Homo sapiens: one gene and its partner. The protein of the gene in region 2 interacts with the protein of the main gene of each other region in a biochemical or structural test. Each region holds a gene or a part of one and is shown on either strand. Other genes may lie near its edges.

What was found.
Region 1: the proteins of NCBP1 (region 2) and PARN form a complex in vitro, tested with the Homo sapiens proteins (one study listed by IntAct).

Annotation. Positions count from the first base shown.
Region 1 is NC_000016.10:14,434,917-14,438,297, forward strand, and holds the end of PARN (poly(A)-specific ribonuclease PARN), read right to left. Parts: intron 1,857-3,381; coding exon 1,801-1,856; 3' UTR 785-1,800; downstream 1-784. UniProt on the Homo sapiens protein: 3'-exoribonuclease that has a preference for poly(A) tails of mRNAs, thereby efficiently degrading poly(A) tails.
Region 2 is NC_000009.12:97,636,652-97,640,472, reverse strand, and holds part of NCBP1 (nuclear cap-binding protein subunit 1), read right to left. Parts: intron 1-3,821. UniProt on the Homo sapiens protein: Component of the cap-binding complex (CBC), which binds cotranscriptionally to the 5'-cap of pre-mRNAs and is involved in various processes such as pre-mRNA splicing, translation regulation, nonsense-mediated mRNA decay, RNA-mediated gene silencing (RNAi) by microRNAs (miRNAs) and mRNA export.

The DNA of each region.
Region 1 (3,381 bases), on a different chromosome or scaffold from region 2:
TCTTGGCCTCCCGATGTGTTGGGATTATAGACGTGAGACACTGCGCTGGGCCCCCTCTTTTTCTTTCAAAATCAAGGGTCAGACTCTCCTCATTTCTCCGTGAGTGCTGCTGACTCGGCAGTCCGGCAGCCCTCTCTACACATTCCTGCATACACCCTCCTTTACTGTCTGTCTCCATCCTACCTTCACACTTTCCACTGAGCCGTGTGTGCTGACTACTCTAGGAGGGGTGGGCAGTCCTTCCTGCCAAGCCTGGGTTTCTAACTTTGTGGCTACAAAACTCCAGGGAGTTTTGTAGGAAGGGAGAGGAGCAGGAAGGGGGAAGAGAAGTTAACATGCTTTAAAAAAAAAAAAAAAAAAAATTTTTTTTTTTTTTTTTTTAAAGACAGGGTCTCACTGCGTTGTCCATGCTGGTCTTGAACTCCTGGGCTCAAGTGATCCTCCCGTCTCAGCTTACAGGTGTGACAGAGGCTCTTGATTAGGGAAACTGTCTTACAAATCGGAATCTGCATAACACCCTGGGATTCCAGTGTGAGTGCTAAGGGTCCTCATTCCTCCCACCCTCCTACAAGGCCACTTACCACCAGGGCTCAGCTCGGTACTGAGGAGCCGATCCATCGTGGCAGGTATAGCAGTTAGGGGTAAAAAGAAGAAGAAAAAAATCCATGAACATCAGCCTTAGTGGCTTAGCAGATTTTTTTAGGAGTGTGAAATTTATCTGTGTATTACTAGAGAGCGAAAACATCATTCACTTATTAAAAAAAAAGAGAGGAGAAAACCAGAGTCCTATGAAAATGTTTTTAATTTTCATCTTTTGGAAATACATTTTTCATTTTTATTTCCACCATACAAAAATGTGAAATATCTAACAATGATCTATCTGAAGCGGGTGGAGCAAAGCAGCGCCATGAGCGTTTGTCGTTGCTGTGATCTGTTTCAACGGAGAATGGGCTGGGACATGTTGTAGATTTGCACGATTTCACACACACACACACACACACACACACACACACACACACACACACACAGACACGTACGCACACACGCTGCCGTACCCCGAGACCGCCATCCAAACAAACGAACAGAGACTCTGGAAAGTGAACACAGCGCCACGCATAAGAACAGAAGTTAACCTTTTTACTCGTACATCCCCCATGAGAAACTCACGTCTTAGGAGAAAGGAACTCTACATAAATATGCCCAAAGGCCAGGGCATACGGCAAGCCCTCTCATGGGTGGGCATGAGTGGACATCTTCCTGAAGGAAGGACAAGCTTGAGAGCGTCATGTTTTCAGGCAGCTATGGTGGGAAGCAGGGAGGCACAACCGATTTTTCCACTGGGAGACTAACCGAGGGCTGCAACTGCCTCAAAATCTCAGTGCGAGAAGATGCACAGGCAGGACAGTACACCCCCAAATTCATGATCACAGCAGCTGGAATGTCAGCTCTTTTTGCAGATTTCACAGCCGACACTCCCCATCAGGCAGGTTCTTAAGCACACTGGGTCATGACAGGAAAGGCCTCACAAGAGCAACACGGAATTCACTGGTTAAGCACGTACACATTCATGACAGCCTACAACCGTGATGAGTGTCAATGTCAACAGGCAGTTAGATTAAAAAGGGGAAAAAACCACAGCCACAAAAATAAAACCTGTTTTCTCCCCCCCAGGAGACAACTTGGTTTCCAACCCCTCCCATACCACATTTGATTAAGTTAAATACAGTGCGGCTTCCAAATGTGCCAGCCGGCTCTTGCTCACAGCGACAGCACCAGCGGTTTGCTGCCCTCAGGTCTTGGTTACCATGTGTCAGGAACTTCAAAGAGTGTGGCAGGGCTGTTCTTCGAGATGCTTCCTGGTGGGAAAGAACAAAACAATATGAACAGCAGGACCAGGACGGCACCTTGAGGAGAGCATGACATGACCAGCAGACAGACAGAGGGCCTGTGACGGCTGCAGACGGGGCCAGCGTCTGGCTAAACAGCTGCGCTGGAAAGAGTCCACAGACAGGTCTTGTCTAGGGAGGGCAGTGCCCAGCATGGGAAAGTGAAACCACAGAAACATCATGGGGGCGCGGAGGAAGCACCTCCCTGCCTCCAGCATCTATCTATTTATTTCACAGGAGTTAAACTGTAGCCATGCACAGTATTCCTCACTGAACACCATGCTGGATTCTTTGTTGGCAATACAGCGGGCATTTAATTCATATAATCTTCATTAAAAGCCCACCAAGGTGGTAACACTACCCCATTTTACAGATGCAAGAACAGATTGAGAGAAGTGGGGTAATATGACCAGATGTACAGAGCTAGCAAGTGGCTGAGATGGGGTCTGAATCCTCCCACAGCACCAACATCCCTGCCAAAGTCCCTGGAAACTGAGTTTCTCTGTGCTGTGCTGTGGCTCTGCCTAGGTGAGAAATCTCAGGTGGGCAGCTGAAGGGCAGAGGGAAGCCAACCAGTGGGGGTTCCAATATCTCAACAGGGGCAAAAGAAGGTTGCAGCTTTTTCCAGCTTCGGTGAAGCTGGCTGGGGTCCTCTTCTTGGATTGAAAAGATCTCTTCAGTGACAAAGTTTCACCCCAATGTCAGAAGCCCTTCTTTTTTATTCATGCCACTTTCTACAATACGAGCAGCTGCGGCCAGCAACTGAGCTGGGACTGGACTTCAACGAATGTGAGGGAAGTCAGGAAAGAGCATGTTCATAATGGAAAGTGTGGCCCGACCAGGCGTCAGCTGCACAAGTGGTGCCATGCATTAAGTCATAAAGTAGGGCTGACGGGGGAAACTGGCAGTCTCTCTTCTAGCTGCTAACACCAAGATTTTAGAAAGGGAGAGAAGTCTTTGATGATACCTCCAATGGGAAATAACTTTTAAATACAGAGGGGGTGCAGTGTCTTACAAACTAGGGAATCATATCACTGAGTTCACAGTGGTTATCATCAGTAACAGGGATGCTTAAAAATAACGAGGTCTGAACACAAGAAAAAACATGAAGAGAATTTCAGCTAACATGAGAATTTCTACTTCTGATCATTTACTGTGATAAGATCCAGGGAGTTAGGGTGAGGAGACCGGGAAAGGGTAACCGGACTCTTTCTGCCCTGGGTCTCATCGCTCTGAACAGGCACGTTCTGGGACACCCAGTAAAGATGGCGAGACCACTCTGGAGAAGTGAAGATGGGCAGGAGATGATCCACTGAAAAGGACTCATGGGGTCCAGTGAAGTACTGCAAGGGGCCTGTGATAACCTGCAGCTAGCCTGGCCTTCCCAGTCCCACAATGATACAATAAACACCTAACTGTATGAAAAGAAACATCCATTAAGGGCACTTTTATAATTCACATATGAAAGAAATATTGCAGTAGCCAATTAGCCATT
Region 2 (3,821 bases):
TAGTTAGAATACTCATGTACCGCTACTCCCATTCTTTTAACTTGAGTTGTTTACTGATCCTCAGTTGCTTGTTCCGAAACCTGTTAGTACCAGTAGTATTCATTAGTCTAATAATGTATTATGTAAATGACAAAATAAGGGTGCAAAACCAAGTCGAATGCTTTGGAAAGACTTGATCAGAAAAAAAAGCTGTCATATCAGCTATAAAGAGGAAAGCTTCAAAAGATGGGAAAAAGGAGCATAAAACATTAGGATTTCTCACTTGCTTCACATGTTTCTAAGCTCTAATCTCAAGTCTTCAATTAACAATTTCAGTTCTGCATATGATGCAGCACAACGGTATAGTTTATCCTAAATAATGGGAACGACAGTCAGTATACGTATATTCAAAGAAAAGTCCTGAGCACTATATCAAAAAATTGGTGGAAAAAAGGACCACGTTTTACAATTCCTGCTTTAACTAGCTTTTATTAACTGAATTACTGATAACTGCTTTATTTAAAAACCATATCATTCGAATAATCTCTATGTTTTTTAAATCTACCATTCTAAAATCATTACCAAGCATCTGTCTTTTTGATTGCTCAACAATTCAAGTTGAATGAAGGTGTGCTAAAAATTAACCTCAAACACCTGTCTATTAAGACCCTTGCTGTTTGTATCTCTTACCACTTTGTTTAAAGCCTTAACACACTCACCTAAGTCCTTTTGTGGTATAACATAAAGCTTAAAAAATTAAAATAATAGTGTTAAGTATGGAACCTGATGCTGCTGCTAAACACTTTGGCTAGTCTAATACAATCCAATTTTCGACTTCCATTGATTCAATTATTTGGTCGGCATATGGACAAGAAAGCAAGAGCCTGTAACTGTGCAGGGAATCGGTATTAATAATGAAAATCTGCAGTTGGATATATGGTTACACAGTAGCAAGTTACATATAACTTCAATCTTCAGATCTGAACAGCCAAAGGAATTATTGTTACAAAGTTCATAATCACTTACTTGCCTATGGAACACTTGGCTTGAAAATGATGTATGGTGATTCTCATAAAACACAGCACCTGGCTATTCTAAGCTTGGAATGTTAAATCTATTGAATGACTGAAATGATCTTCAGATACCACATGAACTGAAGCTGAATAAAACGAATCTATTACTATCCACATAGGATCTGAGGGGGGGTATTATAAAGGTTACAGGGTAAGACACTCTGTACGTCAACTTCCCAACCCATTAATTACCATGATAACCTGACTGAATGTCCACTGACTATAATTTTGAAAGGATAATGCCACAAAAAGTATAATACGCATGCAGCATGAGAGCTGAGATGTATTTATTCCTGGAGATATCTGCCTGTGTAAAGTTGTAGACATGTGTGGCACAGAGGTTCAGGGACCTTGATTCTTAAGTATAGATCAAACCTAAGTCACAGGACCTATCAAGGTTCCACCACCCAAAGTGCCAAATTTCACACAAAGGTCTTTCATTTCCAGGATTCACTTATTGAAAAAAAGCATAATTGATGTAATATTTACGCAAGCTGCCAGCTAGGACATTCAAATAGCCTTCTTCTACAGCAGTAGTTCTCAACAGGGTGTAGATTTTGCCCCCAGTGGTCATCTGGCAAACCTTGGAGACATTTTTAGTAGTCAAAACTAGGGGAAGCAACTGGCATCTAGTGGGTAGGGGCCAGGCATGCTGCTAAATATCTCACGTTGCATAGGGCATCTCCCAAAACAAATAACTGGCCAAGAATGTCAATAGTGCTGATGTTAAGAAACCGTATTCTAGAAAGCAGAGCTCCTCAGAACCAAATTTCAGTGAGGTTGGGAGAATGCAGATGCTGAAAAACTAGCTGAATGAGAGCAGTTATTTTTTGTTGCTGTTTTTTAAACCTTAAGCACACTGTTCCCTTCTTTCTGGCTCATCTATTTTGCCAACCCTTTATTCCACCTCTACAGTCTTCCTAACTTAACTTTCCAGCTGGCTTGTTCCAGTTTGGAATCATACCACAGCCTTTAAAGCAACCCTCCTAGGCCCTCTTATAAGCTTGAAAAGGGGAAAATAGTGCTGTGGGAAGAGAAGGTATGATTTCTGAGAAACAACTAGAAAATACATGTACATAGTCACATCTCTGAACTGCAAACCCTTTGTTCATTTTGGCTATATTAAAGGACAATATTTGTCTGGAGAATGGGAGGAGGCAGAAAGTATTAAGAGGTAAGAAATGTTCCACTTTCACCTGATAGTTGAGAGACTATAAAGGGGTGAAGACTACAGACAAAATCTGAACTTACGAACAGAAACATGATATTGAACTCATAAGACAACCTGGGTAAGGGAACAGGGAAATGAAATAAAACAATACGAATACAATTTGGGGAATTCGCTCAATGTACCCTGAAGAAAACGTATCTATGGTAGTTCCCAAGGCAAGAACAGATTTTTTATTAAAATTTAACTATGTAAAAGTTTTAAAATGTAAATTAAAGATAACATTACCACTTCACTCAGACAGACTTGGCTAGTATAGAGAAGCAGGTATAAAATCCATCTGAAAGGATCTTAATAAACCAAATAAATTTCCCCTCTATAAGTCAATCCTAATTTTATACGGGTACACTGTACATCTTATAGCCTTACAAGAAATTTTAGACCCACAAAATGGAAAACAAAAACCAACCCTGTAAAATAGAAAAGTAAAGTAACTAAAACCAACAACTTCAACATTACGTTTTTAAACCTTAAGCACACTGTTCCCTTCTTTTTGGCTCATCTATTTTGATATTGAACAACTTGAAAGATAACATGCCTTGAGCCCGCAGACTTAAAACAGGCAACCATCACTTCTGAAATAAACTATACTCTCTCAAAATAACAAATCCTTTCACTTCTATTTTTTTCTTTAGTTAAGTAAAAAAATCAGCCACAGTCCAAAAGACAAGGACCTAATTCTAAGAAGCTTAAATGGGGCTAATACAGCAAATCTGAAATTTTTGTAAATTGCCCAAATTCCCAAAATTGTATTCGTATTGTTTCTAGCTAAGATTTTGAACAATCTAAATACTTTCTTAAAAGAACAAACAATGGACTGCATATCCCATAGTAACTAAAAAGCTTCAGAGACATTTTTAAAGCAAGTCTAAGCAATTAGTTAAGATTTAGCACTGGACTAGTATCCATACACATTACTTTCCATTTAGCATTTCCTTTTCCTTGTTTATAAATGGACTACTACATGAACTTCATTGGTATAGCCTCCTAATCCTACCCCCCTTAATCTTTGATAGTCGAGTCTCAACACAGAAGTATAATTTTATAATCTCCCTATAAGATGCAACCCTCTGCTATCTCTCTAATCTTATCTCCTACAACTTCCCCCTCACTCACTCTGCTCCAGCACCACTGGCCTCCTTGCTCTTCTGTTAACATGACAGGAACCCTATAGTCTTCAGGCTTTTGTGCCCATGGTTACCTTTGGATCACAGCTTTTCCCCATACAGCTATATGGCTGCTACCTTACCTCCGGCAAGTCTTTGTTCAAATGCCATTCACACCGAAGCCTTCTCTAATCAACTTACATAAAATAGTAACTTCTCCCTCACAGAAATCTCTCCCCTCTTTACCTGGTATCACTCCATAGCGCCTGTCACTATATGATACACTATACTTTACTTGACTGTCTTCTCTCTACTCTAGAGGGGAGGCTCTATCTTTATATTGTCCACTGCTGTATGGCAAGTAATTAGGACAGAGCTTGGCACTGTTAAGTATTTGTTGAATAAATGATTTTATATATATATATATATATATAT